Linked DNA regions of Homo sapiens. The protein of the gene in region 4 interacts with the protein of the main gene of each other region in a biochemical or structural test. Each region holds a gene or a part of one and is shown on either strand. Other genes may lie near its edges.

Region 1 (4,917 bases), on a different chromosome or scaffold from region 4:
TCAACATGCCGGTAAACAAATAAAAAATCAATTAATCAATGAATGAATGAATGTCCTGAACTCGGGCTTGAAGGAGAGGATTTGGACAAAGATAGAAATGGAGATGAGAATGAAGGGCAGATGTGCTTTTGAGGGGGTAGTAATAACACAGTGTACCTCTCATGGGGTAGGTCTCTGAAGTGTACAAAATATTTTTATATACTCCCCCACACTCGATCCACCTGCCAGTCCTGTGCCACAAAGCAAAAAAAAAAAAGCAAAAAACATACTTCACAGATGAGAATCTAACCAAAGGCTCCATGACAAAGAGCTGTGGCAGCTAAGGTTAGTGAGATAACAGGTGATCAGAATGAAACATCTGAATTTGATGCAGTAGGAAACAGGGAGCCAACTGAGGGTTGAACCAAATCACTTCCGAAATCCTGCCTTTGCGGGACCCCTTCCAAGGCTAAATGAAAGAAGAATGGAAATTCTACCCTAATTACAGCTCCCAAGGTGCTACCCTCATTCATTCTTTTATCCCCAGCGCTCCTTGCTTGTCATGTACCTAAAGTTACACTCAGTACTCTGCTGCTAATGTGTTCAAGTTTTTCTCTGTTATTGCAATCTCCTGGCATGGTACCCACTGCTCAGCACAATGCAGTAGCAGCAGCATCCTAAGGACATTTTTTTTTTTGAGATGGAGTTTCGCTCTGTCGCCCAGGCTGGAGTGCAGTGACGCCATCTCAGCTCACTGCAAACTCTGCCTCCTGGGTTCAAGTGATTCTCCTGCCTCGGCCTCCCGAGTAGCTGGAACTACAGGTGCACGCTACCACACCTGGCTAATTTTTTAATTTTTAGTGGAGATAGGGTTTCACCATGTTGGCCAGGCTGGTCTCAAACTCCAGACCTCAAGTGATTTGTCTGCCTCGGCCTCCCAAAGTGCTGGGATTACAAAGAGAGCCACCGCACCTGGCCAGGACATTTTACTTACTCAAAATTTTGGTTGAGTTGGATCAAGTGAAAATGCAAGTATCTTACTGAAAGAAGCCCACATCATAAGCACCGTGAAAATCAGAGGGGGGCTGGGCACGGTGGCTCACACCTGTAATCCTAGCACTTTGGGAGGCCAAGGCAGGTGGATCACCTGAGGTCAGGAGTTCGAGGCCAGCCTGGCCAACATGGTGAAACCCCATCTCTACTAAAAATACAAAAATTTGCTGGGTGTGGTGGTGCACATCTGTAATCCCAGCTACTCAGGAGGCTAAGGCAGGAGAGTCACTTGAACCCGGGAGGCAGAGGTTGCAGTGAGCTGAGATTGCACCACTGCACTCCAGCCTGGGCAACAGAGTGAGACTCCGTCTCAAAAAAAAAAAAAAAAAAAATAGAGGGGAAATAAGCAATCTGAAGTTCAAATTCCACAGACCTTTTGGCATGCCTATAGTATATACATGGCACTGAGCTAGGAGGTCTGGGGGATTCTGAGATAGGGAAGGCAGTCCCTGCCCACAAACAGCTTCTAGTCAATCAGAAATGAACAAAACGTTTCCATAGGCTTCACCTGGCTACAGTGAGAGTCAAGTTGTCTGTGCAGCCTTTGATTCTGTTCTGAGCTTCCAAGTGTGTCATATTGCTAGTATTTTCCCCATCAATGGCTGTGATTACATCTCCAATACATAAATTAGCTAGAGCCGCCTTGCTTCCAGGAGTGACCTAGAAAAAAAGGGGAAAGCAGGCTAGTTACTATTTGTCTCCAAACCACTAAGTTACCACCAAGTTAAGTATTCACTGATATGGAGCAAAGCCCTGAAAAAGAAAAGAGGGCTGAAATCATAGCTTAAATAATAACAATCATTTATATTATCATTGACAAAGAGGGCTTTTCTAATATGATCTCATTGTATCCCTATAGCAACCTTATGAGAAAGGAGGACAAATAGCAGTCCCCATTTCCAAGACCAGGATCTGAGGCTTAGAAAGACCTATGACTTACCCAGGATCACCCAACTAGTATATTATTATATTACTGGTCCTCCAACTAGTGTATTACTGAGCCAGGAAACAAACCCCGAACAGATCTGATGTCCTTCCCACTGAACCACGTTTGCTTCCTTAAAATTAGTTAACAATTACATTTAAAAAAACACACACACACACATTTAGAGAACATTATATACTATAATACCCTATTTCTTTAAAAATCTTAATAATGTTATATATACAAAAGAAAGTGGAAACACTGCACACTAAATTGTTCACAGTTATACAGTTTTGCAATGTTTTTTACAATAATATTGAATTACTTTTTAATTTAAAAAATTGTTGACCAGGCATGGTGGCTCATGCCTGTAATCCCAGCACTTTGGGAGGCCAAGGCAGGCGGATCACCTGAGGCCACGAGTTTGAGACCAGCCTGGCCAGCATGGTGAAACCCTGTCTCTAACAAAAATACAAAAAAATTAGCCGGGTGTGATCTCAGCTATTCAGGAGGCTGAGGCAGGAGGATCACTTGAACCCAGAAGGTGGAGGTTGCAGTGAGCCAAGATCATGCCTCTGTACTCCAGCCTGGGCAACAGAGTGAGATTTCGTCTCAAAAAATAATAATAATAATAAAATAAAAATTTAAAAAAAAATTGTTAAAAGCAATCAAGGATATCCTAAAGTATGGTAGTATAGGTTTATACTGGTTTAATCTCCCAAAATGACTAGGGTCATTCCCTATAGACGGCTGGTTTTCTGCAGACTGATGCTTCTAAAACCAGTGGTTCCAAATTGACAGATCATTGATGCTTGGGGGAAGCCAATCAATTACTGCAATAGGTCCTTAAATTCACCTGCCTACAGAGCAATACATGCGGACTCAATACATATCACATCTCCTACACTGATGTACAACCATTTTTCAAGTGAATACAGATGCTATTAGAATGAACAAGATCCAAACTCATTTTGAAATAGTACTCACCTCAGAGTACTATCTCTAACCAAGGTATCTGGTTAGATTTTCTAAACTAAGGTATACTAAAAATATTACTGTCATCATCCCAGGGTAAGTTCACAACTTTTTTTTTCCACATTACAAGACCTTCCTGGATGGGAATTCCAAGTCCGCAGGATCAAGGTGGCAGTAACACCCCCAGGCTCCCAGTGCCCACAGGGCTCTGGCCACCCTTTGGAGAAGGCCCTTGACTCTCGGGATCCAGTTGAGGAAGATCTTATGAACACCTGGGTGTCTCCTTATGGCTGAACCACAGGTAACAGGTTCTTCAAGGCACCAAACCAGGACACACAAGTTGGGTCCTAAACCTCAGTATCTGATGCAGTTTTCAGCAGCTACAGTTTCCGATTAGCCCTCAGCGCAGCTAGTGTGGTGCCGCTATTATGGTGCATTCCCCATCAGCACCCTGACCCCAAAAAATGAGGACAAGTTGATCCTTGAGGTCCCTTCTGGCCCGCACATGCTATGACTTTATCAGGCAAAACTCTCCTGGAATGTGGCAGGATGTGGAAACCAGTACCGAGATCCTGACCTCCTAACCTTCCTTTCTGGCTCTCCCATCATTTGTTTACCAGAGATCTGGGTTTTAGGAAACGAAAGCAGCCTCCTGATTCAAGGTTCAGATCGTCCCCTCATCCAGCCACTGGGACAGGACTTTTTATCCAGGCAAGCACAGGCCGCTCTCATTTCAGTCAACAATGAGAGTTAGCTTCTGAGTCATCCAGTGCATGCAATAAAAAAAAATTCCTCCGTTTTCTGACCTGTTGTCCTGAGAAGACTGATCTGGTGCATCTTCATACACACTTCACTGTTACTAAAGGACAACGCAGGCTCAGTTTTTAAACGGCTCTAAGCATCATTTTATTTGGGATTGGCAAGCGTTCTTGACTGACAAACTCTAACTCCAAGGAGAGCAGCCTGAATCAAGGAGAATAATGCCTTATGGAACTCATTTATCATAGCTAAATCTAGCAGTTTCAAAGAGCAGTCCCCTTAGGATGAAATCCAAAATCTTTAACAAGGCCGCTAAAGCCAGTGCCTCCCTCCCCACCCACATCATGCCTCTTCCCCACTGGGCTCCAGCTACAGGGCCTCAGGACTTTCACACCTGCCTTTACCTCTGCCTGATTAACTTCTCATCTTCCAAGTGTCTGTGTAAACAACCCTTCTTCTCAAAGAGGCCTTCCTTCACCTCCAATCTAAGCTATACCCCCACAGTCATCCTTTTTTTTTTTTTTTTTGAGACGGAGTTTCGCTCTTGTTGACCAGGTTGGTGTACAGTGGCGCAGTCTCGGCTCACTGCAACCTCCACCTCCCGGGTTCAAGCGATTCTCCTGTCTCAGCCTCCTGAGTAGCTGGGATTACAGGCTGCACCACCATGCCCAGCTAATTTTTTGTATTTTTAGAAGAGATGGGGTTTTTTCACCATGTTGGCCAGGCTGGTCTCGAACTCCTGACCTCAGGTGATCCACCCACCTCGGCCTCCCAAAGTGCTGGGATTACAGGCGTGAGCCACCATGCCCAGCTCAGTCATCCTTTTAATACACTTGGTTCTTCTTCACGGCACTGGTCACTTTATGTTTGCAAACCTCCTTGGTGGGTTAGTTTGTTTAATGTTGAAAGGCCTACTCAGCAGTAAGGTGCATGAGGGCAGGATTTTGTCTGCCTTCTGTGCTGTGATATTGCAAAAATTTTAACAGTGAGAAAATTATGACAGTTAAAGATCTGGCCTAACCAATTTCATCTTGCCTTTAACCTCCAAACTGTCTTTGGTCATTCCTGGGCATCAGCAAAGCTAACTTCCGGAGAAATTTTAGTGTATAGTTTAAATGATGGTAGCACTTTCCAAAACTAAACTGTCTGAAAAACTAACGAAAGACCACCAGGTTAGGAGGATGAGAGGGGCCTGAATTCTGCTAAGATGTAGGCATAGTTAAATG
Region 2 (5,391 bases), on a different chromosome or scaffold from region 4:
ATTTAACTTCTGATTCATTTTTATTAAAATGCCAAAACTCACACACTTAGAGCCAGCCCTTGTTTCAAGGACTATGAAGTTAAAATTTAACATCCGGTGCAAAAGAAAGTGAGACAGTGAATGAGGGTTCATTTGGGTATGTTATTGTCTAAAGTAATCCTCAACCCTTCAATGAAAACATAGGCATCTCAAAAGTAAAATTTAAAGGATAACAATATTCAGTCTATTTAAAGAACAAATTACAGGAACCGCCAATGATAAACATAGTATATTCATAATAGAAGTAAATTCCGAATACTTCAATCTCCAAACACGAGGAAAAAAAAAAAAGGTGAGAGGCAACAGAGTATATGCGTGTCATAAATCAATGTATTTTCTATGATTTCTGTCCTGCCTGCTCAAAAATTTTCAGGAAGTCTGGAGTAAAATCTCTGGGCCCTTGGGAAGATGTTAGATGCTAGATGCTACCCTAACCAGCAACGCAACCCACCTGACACCCCAGAGCAGCTCACAGAACTTCAGAGTAGTGAAAGGGAGGGTATAAATAAGAGAACAGTAAAGGCAGGAGATTTTTCCGGGAGTTGGAATTACGACTCTGTAAGGTCGTTTTCCAAGGCTGTGCTTAAACTATTCACGGAAAAACACTTCTTTTTCTACCTAAAGCAGAGATCTGCAGCAACAGCAGCCAGACTCCCCTCGTCAGTACCAAAGAAAGACTAAGTTCCAGGTGCAACAAGCATACTAGCTGCCCTCTCTGCACCTTGGAGCAGACACAAATGCTGAAAGCCACCCCCAACCAGCTCAACTCCAAATATCTCGGAAGGGGACTGAAGGAAAACGGATACTGAGGTGCCCATTCTCAGGCTTGTAGCATCCACAGCCACAGAGACGGGAGAATTCCTGGCTCTGAGAAGGGGTGACCAAGATGAGGACATTCCAAACTGCGGGACATGTTCTTGCAAAAGAAACACGGGAGTCCCTGGAAACAGACGTGGGCCAGGCTTCTCCTCGCTACTGGTTAAGCTGGGGCGCTCCCGCCAACAGGCTCAAAGCCCCGGGAAGCCCCTAGTGAGGCCCCGTGGCCGGTAACCCCCAACTTGCAGGACGCTCAAGACACAGGCCACCGCCCTGCCGGCCAGGAACGCTGGCTCCGCGCTTACCTCGCAGGCCTTGAGCTTGTCACCATCTCCCTCAGACAGACCAGTCCGACGCGTGGCCATCATTTCATTTCAAATGACAAAGAAGGGACAAATCCTTTGGAGTCCACATTGGACGTGGCGGGGAATGCCACCACACACCCGAAGGGGAAGAATTCCACAAGCAGGCTCCGAGGAGGGGCAGGGCTGTTGAAACAGACAACGTGCCAGGGAATAAAGGTTTTCAGGAAGCGCCTTCAAATGCCTCGCTGATTTCTCGTGACTTCAACTGACTTCGCCTTCTTCTTCCATTTCTGGAGACTTAAAAACAAAGGCGACAGGTCTTCTTGGCAGCCAGTGTCGAGGCCAATTGCAGAAAGCGGTCCCCTTCTTCCCAGTGCCACTCCTGAGTCCTGGAAAAATCCGAATGGGTCGTGAAGGTTCGAGTGTCAGCTCCTAGAGAGATCCTAGGAAAACGAGAAGTTAAAGGTCATGAACTTTCTCCAGGCGCCTATCACTGTCTTGCCCACATGTCCACACCAAGTTCGCGTTTCCTCCCGAGCAAAACAAACAAAAAAAAATTTTAACGTAAACAAACAAAAAGCCTATAAATTCGAGGGGGTGTTTAAAAAAGAGAAATCTCGAAACTGCCCAGCGGTTGCGTCAAACACACCTGGCTGTTATGCAGCCTTCAAGAAAAAATGTTCCCCATTCAAGTGCATTTTAATTCATGTCTTTCCTGGGTAGAGCAGAGGGCTGTGCATGTTGTTTTCTGCATCACCCAGACAGGGACACTTCGGTGAAGTTTTCTCCCCCACGAGGCTGAAATGGGATCACACTTTCCAAGCCCCCTCTTCGCTCCCCTCCGCCCCCCAAAAACGCAAGCACAAAGCCAGCCTGGCTGGGGCCGGCGTGGGCTCGGCGGCGTCTCCGGGTGACTCGGGCGCCGCCCCTCCGCCCCTCCGCCCCGGCCGGCGTCCCCGAGGAGGCGGCTGTTTTCCTTGGCCCGCGGCGGGGCTGGGTGGGGACGGCCGGGGAGGCGTGCGCGGCCGCGGGTGGGACGCCGGCGCCGCTCCCGCTCCAGGGCATGATTCTGGAGCTACACCCGAGCAACTCTGAAGTCGCGGCTTTTCCCCCAACTACCACTCGACACGGCTTCCCTTCCCCTGTGGCCACCTAGGGGGAAAAAACGAGAAAAAGCAAACCACCACCCACCTCCCCACGATTCCCCCGCCCCTTCCTGAGGCGGGTCGGGGACCTCGAGCTCCCGAGGAGAGCGGCCCCAATATGGACTTTCTCAAAGGTGCTAGGAGCCCCGGGGCGAGACAAAACCGGGGGCCTTACCCTTCCCGCCCGCTCGGGCCCGGCGGCCGAAGCGCGGCGGCGAGCTGAAGCGGAGACGCTGGCCGGGCGCCGGGCCCGGCCGGGACGCGCTAGGCCGCAGGCTCGGTTAATATTCATGAGCGGCCCCAGGCGCCCCTCCTCCAAGGCTGGCCGGCCGGACCCCAGCGCCCACCGCCGGCCTTTGTGCCCTTCCCTCCGCCCCGCCGCCCGCCCTTGCTCCGCACACGCGGGCGCGGCCCCTCCGCCCCCGCCGGGCGCCCGCCGCGGGCTCCCTCCGGCCCCGAGCCAGCGCCCGGCCGGGTGGCCTGTGGCGGGAAGGGAGAGAGCCCGCGGCAAGCCGGGCACTCCACGGCCCGCGAGCGCAGCGCCCTCTCGGCTGAGACGGAAAAGAAACCAGACACGCACCAGAGGAAGCGGGACGAGTGGATCCGCACGGGGCTGGCCGGCTCCGGGACAGCGCGCCCCGCCCGCCCGCCCGGCGTGAGCCGGACCCCGCAGCCGGACGATCCCGCGCTGCCCGCCGCCGCCGCCGCCGCCGCCGCCGCGCTCCGAGGCCGCCGCCCCCGGCCGGCCGCTCCCAGGCACCGCCGCGACCTGCCCCGGCCGGCCCCGGGCTCTCGGCCGCCGCAGGAGGGCGTGGGGCGGGGCGGCGGCCGCCGGACTCTCCCCTCGCCTCGCCGGGCCGGGCCGGGGCCCAGCTCCGGCGCCCGCGAACGCCAAGTGACAGAAGCGCCTCGCTCCGTGGCCGCGCGGAGCTGTTTCCCGGGGGCGGATTTCTCGCTTCTTCCTCCCTGGATCCACCTCCTCCCACTCCACCTCCTTCCCCTCCCCTCCCCAGGGGAGGCTCTGGGGCTGAATATTTTCTGTCTTGAATAACACGGGACCGGGGAACCGACGCTGGAGAAGGGGGATTAGCCGGAGGCCGGAGCGGGGTGCTCGCCTGCCCCCTCCCCGTGGGTCGCGGGACCTACAAGCCCTCGCCCCCCAGCACCCCAAAACCAGGCACACAACGCTCCCCGCCCCTGCAGTCTCCCAAGCGCTGAACGGCAGCGTCCAGGGATGGGCTTGCTCCCGGGAAAGGAGACCTGGTGGTAGACGTCTGGGGTGGAGAGGGGGACAAGCCTATAACAGCGACATCTGCAGACTCCAGGGATCAAAGGTCCTAGATTGGGGGACAGGGCTTGGCAAATTGTGCCCCCACCCCTTTTTTGCAGCGGGAAGGCAATGAAGCTGCGACGAGACGTGGGACTTCCAGATAAGGGAGTGTCCCCTCACGCCTCACAGCAAAAATCTCTTCCTGTGGTGGGAAGGGGGAAGTTAGCCAAGCGTTGCTCATTCAGTTCTTTCCCTTTTATAAATTCTGCAGAGCGGCTGAGCGAATTTGGCGCGGCTAGCGGAACTGTGGAGAGGCGGCTGCGCTTCTCTGTCCGCCACACTCCAGGTCACAGCGGCTCCGGAGCCGCGGCACAACCGCCACCCTCCCCACCCAATTCCCGGGCCTTGTCACAGACCCCGGCAGCTCGCTCCGCCCCGCCGTGCCTCACAACATCTCCCGCTGCAAATTACCCAATCGGGAGACGCGACGAGAGAACGCGAACCAATCAGGGGCTGGTAAATCAGGCTTCCCTCCGCCCTCTTCCCCGCCCCCGGGTGAAGGCCACCGCCCCCTCGGCCTCTCCTTCCCACCCCGCCCCGCTCCGGGGAGGTGGCTCCCCGGCTCCGAGCCTCGCGGGGCTGGAGGGGGAGTTGCTCGCAGTCAGAGGCAGCGTTTGTCACCTTGTCACCCTCATCCTCGCCCCCTCCCATACACACTCCCCTCCCCTTCTCGGTGCTCCTGCTGGTGCTGTTGAGGGTCATTTTTATCCTCACTGCGGCCGGGGACTGCCAGCTATTGTGTCTGATCAGCTGCCACCGCTGTCCAGAGGGAAAAAAAGAAGAACAAAACCTAGAAACTGTGGAGTCCTCTTACCTTTTCCTTCTTTCTTTCTACACTCTCCCCTGTAGACTTAGAAACATCCCTTCTCCTTCCCCGCCCGCCCACCACCTGAGGTCCTGTTTCTTTATGGGGGACAGGGGAGCGGGGACAAAAAACACTCCCTGCAGCTGGAGTACCTGCGCCTTAGTTTTTACATCTTCCTTAAAGTGGAAGGTGCCAAACCAAATCTACAACTAAATCCTCCGCTTCAATTCGAGGGAAGACGTTGACGAGATCATTTTTATATGGCCATGAAATTTGCGTGTTCTTGACAGCCTGTCACCAAACAAGTCAGCTAATAATCAAGAAAAGAAAAATAGAATAAAATACAAGGACTGTATTTCAGTCAGATGGTAATTTACTAAATAGCCCAGTGGCTGTAGCAGTATCCAGTGCTAGATACAATTGAGTAAATTAACAAGAAGTGAATAGAAATTCAGGGTTCAAGTAGCTCACCGCTTGTGGGCTTATAGAATATGTCCAGAAAGGAAAAACAACTTACAGCACAAAACAACTCCTTGCACATGCAAATGTGCATGCATGGCATGAACGGCGTACCTAACAGCTGAGGACTTTTGGGTTAAAATTTTTGCACTAGAAATTTTTTAAATGTTGATTGTGAAATTTTCAGTTTGATAAAGGAGAGTAAAATGTGGGCCATGAAAGGAGAAGGAAAAGGAAGGAAAACACATTCTAGGAATTATGGAAAAATAACATAACCTAGAGAGGCAATATTTCTATAAGAGGTAATAAGATGTAAGGATCAAGATTACAATCCAACTCCATCATTTACCACGTAACTTAGGGAAAATTATGACTTATGTGTCTAAGTACTAGAGCTATCAAATTCAATACCTCCTGCTAGGTACTCCTCTAAAAGCTTTACACACAACATATTGAGATAGGTGGGTGGTGAAGCAAGGATTCAAGCCCAGG
Region 3 (4,917 bases), on a different chromosome or scaffold from region 4:
TTTAACATTCTGGAATTCCTAAAAAAAAAAAAAAAAAAAAAAAAAGATAGTAAGTGGGCAAAATTGGCAAATGGCTCAAGTTGTACTATTACATGACTCTCAATTCATAAACCAGCAAATGGTCCAAGGAATGTTCCAGCTGCCATAAAATATCTTGCTCTTCATTTCCAAAAGCAAATATTTGTTGAGTGTCATCCTAACGGGCAAGTCACCTTCCATCTTTCCTAGTGCATGCATAATTATGGATTATAAGGACTGTGTTTTCTTTATTAATTCCCTTTCCTGTAGAGAAAGCTGATGGTTTGTGTTTTAACTTAACTGTGATTGCATCGAGTTGTACCCCACAAACTTCTGGATTGGCTAAAGATGCTTGGGAAGTTGCACGTCGTTCGTTGTGTCTGGAGAAGAAGCTGGGTCAGGGGTGTTTCGCTGAAGTGTGGCTTGGTAAGGCAGAGGGCACATTTTGTTTTGGCTGCATCTCAAAGCCGATTAAAAGGATGGTTTTGAACAAAAATGCACACACAGCCGTTGGGACAAAGACACTTAACCTGGATAACTAGACGGGCACAGGCCATCCAGATTTTCAGAATATGCTGATACCTTGCTGTGCTCATCTGTCCTACTTCATGTGGTTAATTAAGGCACCCGCAGAACAGGAAACCAGTACACTATGAATCTGGTGTTTCCTCTTCCTAAGAAATGGGAAGGTAAGATACTGTATATGGGCAGCCATAAGAAAGACCATGGACGTTTTGCTCAATGGGCCTGGGTTTGAATCCTTACTAGCTAATTAACCACGAACAAGGGGCATATTTAACTCCTTTAAGCCTCAGTTTTTTCATCTGTAAAATTGGAATGATACCTTTTTGTTGTTGTTGAGACGGAGTCTTGCTCTATCACTAGGCTGGAGTGCAATGGCGCGATATTGGCTCACTGCAACCTCCACCTCCCAGGTTCGAGTGATTCTCCTGCCTCAGCCTCCCGAGTAGCTGGGATTACAGGTGCCTGCCACCACGCCCAGCTAATTTTTGTATTTTTAGTAGAGACGGAGTTTCACCATGTTGGCCAGAATGGTCTCGATCTCCTGACCTGGTGGTCTGCCAGCTTCATCCTCCCAAAGTGCTGGGATTACAGGCGTGAGCCACCACGCCCGGCTGGAATGATACTTATTTAAAGGATTATTTTTAGGATTACATGGGTTAATATGTTTAAAGTCCCTTGCAGATAGTAGATATTCAGTAGAGATACATACTTCTCTTTATTTGATTGTCATTGATAAGGCTGGCTGCACTGGGCCTTTGTAATTTCTTTTATAGCCCTTTTGGGTCAGTTACAGCTTTGCTTAGAAACAATTCATGGGTTTAGGCCCCACTCAAAAACATGTTTCAGTAAAACAATATTAATACTTATGGAATCCTCTATCTTCCTTCCTCAGAACTCATTAAAAACAATATCGATCAGTACCCTTTGCTACGTGTGGGTATAGATCTTTAGGTGTGGTCTGCATTAAAAGAGTTAATACAGGTGGCCGGGCACAGTGGCTCACACCTGTAATCCCAGCACTTTGGGAGGCCAAGGCAGGCAGATCACCTGAGGTCAGGAGTTTGAGACCAGCCTGACCAGCATGGAGAAACCCTGCCTCTACTAAAAATACAAAATTAGCCGGGCATGGTGGTGCATGCCTGTAATCCCAGCTACTCAGGAGGCTGAGGCAGGAGAATCACTTGAACCTGGGAGGTGGAGGTTGCGGTGAGCGGAGATCGCACCATTGCACCATTGCACTCCAGCCTGGGCAACAAAAGCGAAACTCCGTCTCAAGAAAAGAAAAAAAAAGAGTTAATACAGTTAAAGCACTTAAAACATAGCCCAGCAAATGATAAGTACTACAAAGATGTATGTAGGTATGTTAGGTGGATAAATAGGTAGTAGACAGACATACACATATATATGTATGAGTTAGCTAGTTTAATAAATCCACATTATTGTGTCCATCTCTCTCTGGACTTAATCTCAAGTATCGTAAAATATATGACCTCCTTCTTCCTCATTCACCCTCTAATAATAGAGGATTTTAGTCAAATTACTCACACAATCACAGAGAATTGGACCCTATTAGAAAATTTATTTTCAAATTTTACAAATATCAACTTTAAATCATTACATATACTGTTCACATTTTGTTTTCCAATAAACACAAGACAACATGCCCATCAGAATTGGGATGGATGTCTGTGTAATTGACGAAGTTTGTATTACAGAGGAAGATCTTAATGTATTTAGAATTTTGGGTGCTGACTCTTAAATAGCAAAGATCACTTATAAATTGTCAAATTTCCCATGAATGCTTAGTGGGCAGATATTTTATGAAGTTTAAATGAACTTTTCTTTAAGCCACTTGTTTTTTCATAATTTATATTTTGTAGGTTGCATGTTGTAATTGTATGAACCATGTCTTTAACAGGATAATAAGAACTCCAATTTACAGAATCCTTAAATTCCAAAGTCAGTTATATTAAATATAAAAATCTTAATTTAAACCAGTCTTCTTTTTCAAATAGAAAATAATCTAAATTAGCAGATTTCTTCCCCTTTATAAAGTTATTCTTAAGCATCATAGGTCTAATAATGGAATACACAAAGAACCTAGGTATGGTTTTGTTTTTTGAATGCTGGGGCTGAAAGAGACCCAAAAGATAATCCAGTTCCATTCCTATATTTTACAGATGAGGTAACTGAGGACAATCATAATCCAGGCCTTGCCTTCAGATTTGCTAGATTTTTTTTTAACATGCTAAATTTAAATATTTCTGTTCCCTCTCAGCTGCTGTTTAATTTCCCCTGTCTACCTACCTGACAGAAGCCATTGTTCTTGTGGCTAGCCATCAGTAAAGCTGAGGAAATTTGCCTTACCTTGTTGAAGTATTGGCAAGCAGACTGTGAGCTCCTTGCCAGTGCTTATCAGCATGCTTGGCACACCTGTGCAAGGACTCAGTCAAGTAACTTGTCCATTGCAGACATTGAAAGTCTAGAGGTAATTTCCAGACATCCTCATGTGGTGCCATATTTTTAAATGGCACACCCCATAAACTTAAATAATCTAATTTCTTCCATGCACACTGTACTCCCTAAGGGACAGCTATTAGATGGCCAGGCCTGTTCCAACCCCTGGACTTTCATCACTGTATGGTGCAGAGCTTTTGGTATAAATGTGTAATCATATGACTGAGCCAAAAAAAGAGAGAGTGGTAATATATCAAAATTTAAAAAAATTTTAATGAGTTATAAATCTTAATATAGCCATCTTAGCCATAACCACAAATAAACTCATTTTTTCTGTTAAAATACTTGACAGAGTCCTTGCAATTGAATGTCTTTGTTCAACAAAAACTGTATTAAGTGTTTTAAATTTAAAATCTAATCTTATGCAAATAGCTGGTGGTCAAAACCTTTTTCCATCAAAAGAAGATCTTTGGTTTGACTTCATATTCTGGGATGTTTGTAGGTACCTGGAATGGAAACACAAAAGTAGCCATAAAGACTCTTAAACCAGGCACAATGTCCCCCGAATCATTCCTTGAGGAAGCGCAGATCATGAAGAAGCTGAAGCACGACAAGCTGGTCCAGCTCTATGCAGTGGTGTCTGAGGAGCCCATCTACATCGTCACCGAGTATATGAACAAAGGTTGGGCAACACCTCTCCTGTCTCCAGCTCACAGTGCCTTAAGGGGTTGTTTAGGGGAGAGAAATGGAAGTTTCCTACTTGCTACTTTTCTAGTTTCTGCCTGGGTCAAGTATTCCCATTAGGAACCACCAGTTATGTGCTCGTTAATGAAAACATTTTTTAAAACAGACTAACCTTGCGTTTACCCCACCCCAAATCCTTATGAAATGCCAAATACTTTTTACATGTTATGTGTGTCAGAAATTCAAGCTCCTCTCCATAATTAAAACATTCATTTTTAATATCAGGGTGGTACGGAGGGTTATGATAGTTTGCTGTTATTTTGAATGTAGTAGCTTTTGTTACATTTCCTTTTTGCAGGGCTAAACAATTAATATCAGACACTGGTCTCTAAGCTAAGTTTAGTCTCCATCATTTCAACATCTTTTTTATTTCCAGCTCTCTTCTTAAACGTCAGGCGATGAAATTACATGCTTTCAGAGACCACATTTATTCTCACATTCTCTCCCCTACAACCCCTCTGTCTTCCTAATCAAACCAGCATTGTTAGGGATAAGGCCAGAGATCATTTTGTTTTGGAAAAATAGATGAACCAAACAAGAAACAGCCTTAAAAGGCAATACATTGTTTATCAGAGGATACCAGTGTAATTTTTCTTTTCCATGTACTTTCTTTTAAAATTTAATGGGAATTTTTTTTTCTGGCAAACGGTTTGTCCTTTGTATCCAGGGTTATTTTGTAAATAACTTTGTGATTAAAGCATAAAATATCACTGATGACCATCATAAGCCTCCAGCTTCTGCAAATGATTATCCCTGCTTTGGTGTTAGTTCTAAGCCTTCTTAGGCTGTGTTATAATAGTGGCTCTGAAGCTTCCAATGTTTCATTTCAGATGTCTGATTTAAGGCTTGGCTGGCTGTGATCTAATTAAGGGGAACCATCTGCCCCACCCATATTCTTCAGATTGTCTTTTCTTGATTCAAAATCTGTAAATAAGCTAAGCTAGTGAGTCTCAAACTTTACCTTGTATTATTAGAATCACCTGTAGGCCTTCTTAAAACCCAAGTTTCTGGACCCAACCTTCAAAGTTTCTGATTTACTCGATCTGGGATGGGACCTGAGAATTTGCATATCTAACAAGTTCCCTTGTGTTATTGTAGCTGCTGGTCCCAGGACCACAGTTTTGGACCACTCAGCTGGGCTGTATTTTCCCCACATCAATTCTTTGTGCAGGG
Region 4 (4,917 bases):
CTCTGGCTTATGGCCTTGAGACAGGGTGAGGGGGAGAAACTGGGGTTGAAGAAGCTATTATTCCAGTGTGTACTACTTTGGTCCAGGGGTTTCAAGTGAGACACAGATTTTTTCCAAAGAGTATCAGGAACAGCCTGAGCCACCGCACTCATGTTTAAGTGGTCTGTTTTTTTTTTTCAAAGTAAAAAGAGCACTTATATAGTATGTTTTACAAGTTCTTTCTGTTCATTCTGTTATGCTCTGTGCCCTTCTTTTCTCGACCAAGTTTGCATTTATAAAAGTTAGTTTAAGGTTTCTGAGAACTTTTCCTCTTGCTGCTCAGAATTATGTTTCTCCTTGAAATTTACCATGTGGCACTGTAGCCCACAGTAAGGAACAACGATGGCTCAAATACAAAGTCATTGTACCCATACTGCCCACTCAACGTGACCCTGTCAACTCAAATGAGAAGATGCAGGGACATTCAGTTCTGTAGTGACATCCAAGAGGCTTCCAAGAGGACTCACCTGGAATTGTTTCTCTAGCTTTGTTTTGCCTGCTGGTCCAGGAATGAGGAGTGCATTAACATAGGCATGAATATGACTGTCCAGCACCTCAGTTTCTTTACTAAGTATGGCCTCAACCAGTGTATCATGAATGAAGACATATTGCTCCTGGCAAAACAATGACAATAAGCAACATTAGTTCAAGTTTTCCTCATATGTATCTACCTACAAACATAGTACCTTCCATTGACAGACAAGGAGAGTTTTACAGAATGGGGGAAGACCCACACAAGATTGCTTACAAAACCTGGAAGGAAGTCAGACAGAGGAAAGGAAGTGGTCACAGAAGAAAGAACCTCTTCTCATTCCTTACCTCTTCATTTATTATGTATTGTTGGCAATACACAATAGGTTAGGAGGCAGGAAGAGTTGGCAAGGCAAAGGAATGTCCTCTCTGCCTATCCTTCAAACTTGACACCTCTATACTTCATGAGAGGGCTTTCTTGACTTCTACACTTCTGGTGGGCCTACCCCTTCTGGCAACGCCAACTCTCCTTTTCGCTTGTCATATACAATTTAACTCAATTTTATATATAGTTAATAGTTCTCTGATATTTCACATACGGGACTCTTTCTTGGTCTTATATGACCAGAATGTTATTTTTTAATGTTTATTTTAAGTTCAGGGGTACATGTGCAGGTTTGTTACACAGGTCAACTTGTGTCATGGGGGTTTGTTGTATAGACTATTTCATCACCCAGGTATTAAGGCTCATACCCATTAGTCCATTAGTTATTTTTCCTGATTCTCTCCCTCCTGCCATCCTCCACCCTCTGAAAGGCCCCAGTGTGTGTTGTTCCCCTCTATGTCTCCATGTGTTCTCATCATTTAGCTCCCACTTATAAGTGAGAACATGTGGTATTTGGTTTTCTGTTCCTGTGTAAGTTTGCTTAGGATAATGGATGGAAGGATGTTTGGTGTGGTTTCGTTTTGAAGCCCACTCAGCCATGTGTTTCTGATTGCTTTCAAGCTGCCATTCATAGGTTTCCATTTAAGTTCATTTTTATTTAGAAACAGTGAAGATAAAATGCAGATTTGCTGACACTGTTCTGTCACTTACGGGTAAACTATATGGGCTTAAAATGGATATAATTTAAGCATAATTCATATTTTTTTAAAAAATGAATTGATTCATCCACTATGTATATGAAGAACTTGAGATTTTTGCTAGCAAGGATGTGTGTGGACCACTCTACTTAGACTTTTGCTGTATCTTCTCTGTGACCAGTGTCATTTTAAAGGATATTCCCTATTTGGGGTCACAAAACAGATAAAATTTATCTGGCTCATTCATGACATAGCTGCAGTTACTGGTGTCATGGGTTGAATGGTGTCCCCCCACAAAGATATATTAAAGCTCTAACCGCCTGATAACTCAGAGTGTGATTTTATTTGCATAAAAGTTTGTTACAGATGTAATCAGTTAAGATGAGATCAACTGGAGGAGGAGGATAACTGGTATGCTTATAAGAGGAGGAAAATTTGGATACAGACACAGACACAGAGGGAAACAGCCAAGTGAAGACTGAGACTGGAATTGTGCTGCCACAAGCCACGCAATGCATGGGGCTACCAGGAGATGAAAGAGGCAAGGAAGAATCTTCTAGAGGCTTCTGGAAGGGCATGGGCCTACAGACATCAGAACTATGAGACAATAAACTTCTGTTGTTCTAACCCACCCAGTTTGTATTACTTTGTTTTGCAGTCCTAGGAGATGAATACACCTACATTTTAGTGACATTTCCATACCTTAGATGAATAAAATCATCTTTTTAAAAATCATACCTCAGTTTGTACCAAATAATTTCTTTGTGAACGGATGTGTTTTAAGAAGCCAAATATGTTGACAGTTCCTTCGTGTTGAATCTGCTGCAACATACTGTCTAGCACAATATATGTGCCTGTTCTTCCAACTCCAGCACTGAAGAGAAGACCAAGAAATAAATATTTCAATGTTAAGCATAAAATAAATTTGAAAAATAGATCACTACTGGTTGTCATGTTGATTAAAATAACTTCCTTCTTCAAGCGAGTGAGCCACACAATACATTTGGCAATTCAATATTGTAAACAGTTTAGTAATTAAGCGTAATGCTTTACACAACAAATTTAGAAGTACCCTTTCTAATGTTTTGTCATGTGTCTAATTGCAAAACAACCTCACTATATCTGTTGGAGATTTTAAAACTTTCAAAAACCATATTTATTATTCATTGTATATTGTACAATGAAAATATTATGTATCAGAGTGTGGCAAATAGACATTTAATCTGACAAAAGTGAAAGCTTTAACTTCACCAAATTCTGAAAAGAAAAAGTCCCTAGGTCTATGTTTCCAGGTAGACATGTTTGTAAAGATTTCTGCGTTAATGGGAAAAAGAATTTGATAAAGCTTTCTGCTGAAAATATCATTTCAGTGAGATTGTGAGGAATAAAGCATGACTTCAGTTATTTCTAAAGGGCCATTATCTATCGACTTCTTCAAAGCCTCTAGCAGAGGGACAGAATTCACGGACAGGGATTCTTTTCAAATGTTCCGACAAGTAGGAAGTGCTAGAGTGGAAAATTAGCACCTGCTCTGCACAATAGCCTGGTCCTTCTCCGTTTGCTAGGAAACAATCCCTGACCTTCAGCACTATTTTTCTTGCATCTTCCTGTTTTCCTCAGTTTATAATCAGGCTAACAGATTAAAAAGCCTCAAGATGGGTCTCTCAAATTTAACTCCTGAGATGGTAATTAGAATGTGTTAGATAAGCTATATATCAAAGGCAAACACTTGATTCTCTAAAAACACACTGCTTTGATAACAATACTTCACATAGAAACAAATTTGATTTTTGTGATCTAAGGCTTGGCACACAGTCAGCACTCAATAAATATTAACTGCTATTATTATTTTAACTGAAAACATTAAATAAGGATTTTCAACATTTTTCCTCTTTCATTGAAACATCATTATTTCTATTTATCAACCTAGTCTTGGAAATTAAAAAATCTTGGCAACAATGAATTGACAATACATTCAATGTAATGTATTAAAACTCAAGAAAATGAAAAAGGGATTCTGGTCCCAAAATGTTTAAAAACAACTTAAATATATTTTGCCAAATTTCTCACAATCTGTGTGCTTTGGCTTCTGTGATACAAGCCTGGCATAATAATTCTAAAACAGAATTTTAACTCCTAGGGACAGGGGTTGTAGCTCAAGCATTTTTATCCCATGGTATTATATGTTGAGGTAAATATTTGTTTAACAACAAAAACATTGTTCCACCTGCCTCAAATAGTTAATAAGCTGAAATGCAGTTGAACAATCAAATAAAATAATCAACATCAAAAAATATGTGGTGCTTAGAAATATTCAGCAATCCAATTCTGAGTCTGGCATGTTCATTTCCTAGTGATCAATACTTATGAAAATGAACATATAATTTCATCACCCTCATTTCAAGAAATCATTCCCATTTGGGCAAAAGCTTTGTTCCATTGATTTCCTTTTTGCAAGTATAAGCAATTCTATGGGTTTAGAGGCACATCTCTGAGACTCACCTGCAGTGGACGACAACAGGCCCCACTGCATGGCGCTTGGCATAGGCTGCCTTTCTCACAAAGGTCAGCACTGGCAGGGAGTACTCTGGTACTCCCATGTCAGGCCACTGCGTGTAGTGATACTGTGTGACCACACGTCCACTGGGTCTTCCTTTCTGGGAGCCCTGGAAAAGTTCAGACAGTTAATAACAGTCAAACACACACACACACACACACACACACACACACACACACACACACACACACACACGGTTCTTCAACAGCAAGTCAGGAATCATAGCTTGATTTGATGTTGAGGGTCCATAATGAATGAAAGAAAGTAGAGTGTCATTTGTGATGGTTAATTTTGTGTCCACTTGGCTATACTATGGTGGCCCATTGTTTGGTCAACACTAATCACACAAAATGTTGCTGTAAAGGTATTTTGTTTAGATGTGATTAACATGTAAGTCAGCAGACTTTGAGTAAAGCAAATCATAGTCCATAATGTGGGTGAGCTCCATTCAACCACTTGAAGGCTGTAAGAACAAAGACTGATAGGATAGGTTACCTGAAGAATAAAGAATTCTTCTCAACAGTGCAACGTAAAGATCCTACCAGAATTTCTAGGCTGCCAGCCTGTCCTACAGGTTTAAGATTTGCTAATCCCCATGATCATGTGAGTCAATTCTTAAAAATGTAAACCTCTCTATCTCTCTATTCTGTTGGTTCTGTTTCTTTGAAGAACCTGAGTAATACGTTATTCTTCGTGTTTCCTTTCTTTTTCTTGTTTCACTCTCCACTCTTTTTAGTTGAATATTGGGATTGTGTCAGGGCCATCCT

Evidence for each region. Proteins that work in one complex are often made in the same cells at the same time.
Region 1: the proteins of PTPRZ1 (region 4) and PDLIM1 interact in a test that uses a peptide from one of them, tested with the Homo sapiens proteins (one large-scale study listed by IntAct).
Region 2: the proteins of PTPRZ1 (region 4) and ARHGAP21 interact in a test that uses a peptide from one of them, tested with the Homo sapiens proteins (one large-scale study listed by IntAct).
Region 3: of the proteins of PTPRZ1 (region 4) and FYN, one has a biochemical effect on the other in vitro, tested with the Homo sapiens proteins (one study listed by BioGRID).

The regions. Positions count from the first base shown.
Region 1 is NC_000010.11:95,270,093-95,275,009, forward strand, and holds part of PDLIM1 (PDZ and LIM domain protein 1), read right to left. Parts: intron 1,693-4,917; coding exon 1,541-1,692; intron 1-1,540. UniProt on the Homo sapiens protein: Cytoskeletal protein that may act as an adapter that brings other proteins (like kinases) to the cytoskeleton. Involved in assembly, disassembly and directioning of stress fibers in fibroblasts.
Region 2 is NC_000010.11:24,720,677-24,726,067, forward strand, and holds the start of ARHGAP21 (rho GTPase-activating protein 21), read right to left. Parts: upstream 3,212-5,391; 5' UTR 2,886-3,211; intron 2,546-2,885; exon of another isoform or gene 2,481-2,545; intron 2,073-2,480; exon of another isoform or gene 1,810-2,072; intron 1,604-1,809; 5' UTR 1,224-1,603; coding exon 1,161-1,223; intron 1-1,160. UniProt on the Homo sapiens protein: Functions as a GTPase-activating protein (GAP) for RHOA and CDC42. Downstream partner of ARF1 which may control Golgi apparatus structure and function. Also required for CTNNA1 recruitment to adherens junctions.
Region 3 is NC_000006.12:111,695,042-111,699,958, reverse strand, and holds part of FYN (tyrosine-protein kinase Fyn), read left to right. Parts: intron 1-288; coding exon of another isoform or gene 289-444; intron 445-3,502; coding exon 3,503-3,682; intron 3,683-4,917. UniProt on the Homo sapiens protein: Non-receptor tyrosine-protein kinase that plays a role in many biological processes including regulation of cell growth and survival, cell adhesion, integrin-mediated signaling, cytoskeletal remodeling, cell motility, immune response and axon guidance.
Region 4 is NC_000007.14:122,040,158-122,045,074, reverse strand, and holds part of PTPRZ1 (receptor-type tyrosine-protein phosphatase zeta isoform 1 precursor), read right to left. Parts: intron 4,260-4,917; coding exon 4,096-4,259; intron 2,468-4,095; coding exon 2,332-2,467; intron 654-2,331; coding exon 507-653; intron 1-506. UniProt on the Homo sapiens protein: Protein tyrosine phosphatase that negatively regulates oligodendrocyte precursor proliferation in the embryonic spinal cord. Required for normal differentiation of the precursor cells into mature, fully myelinating oligodendrocytes.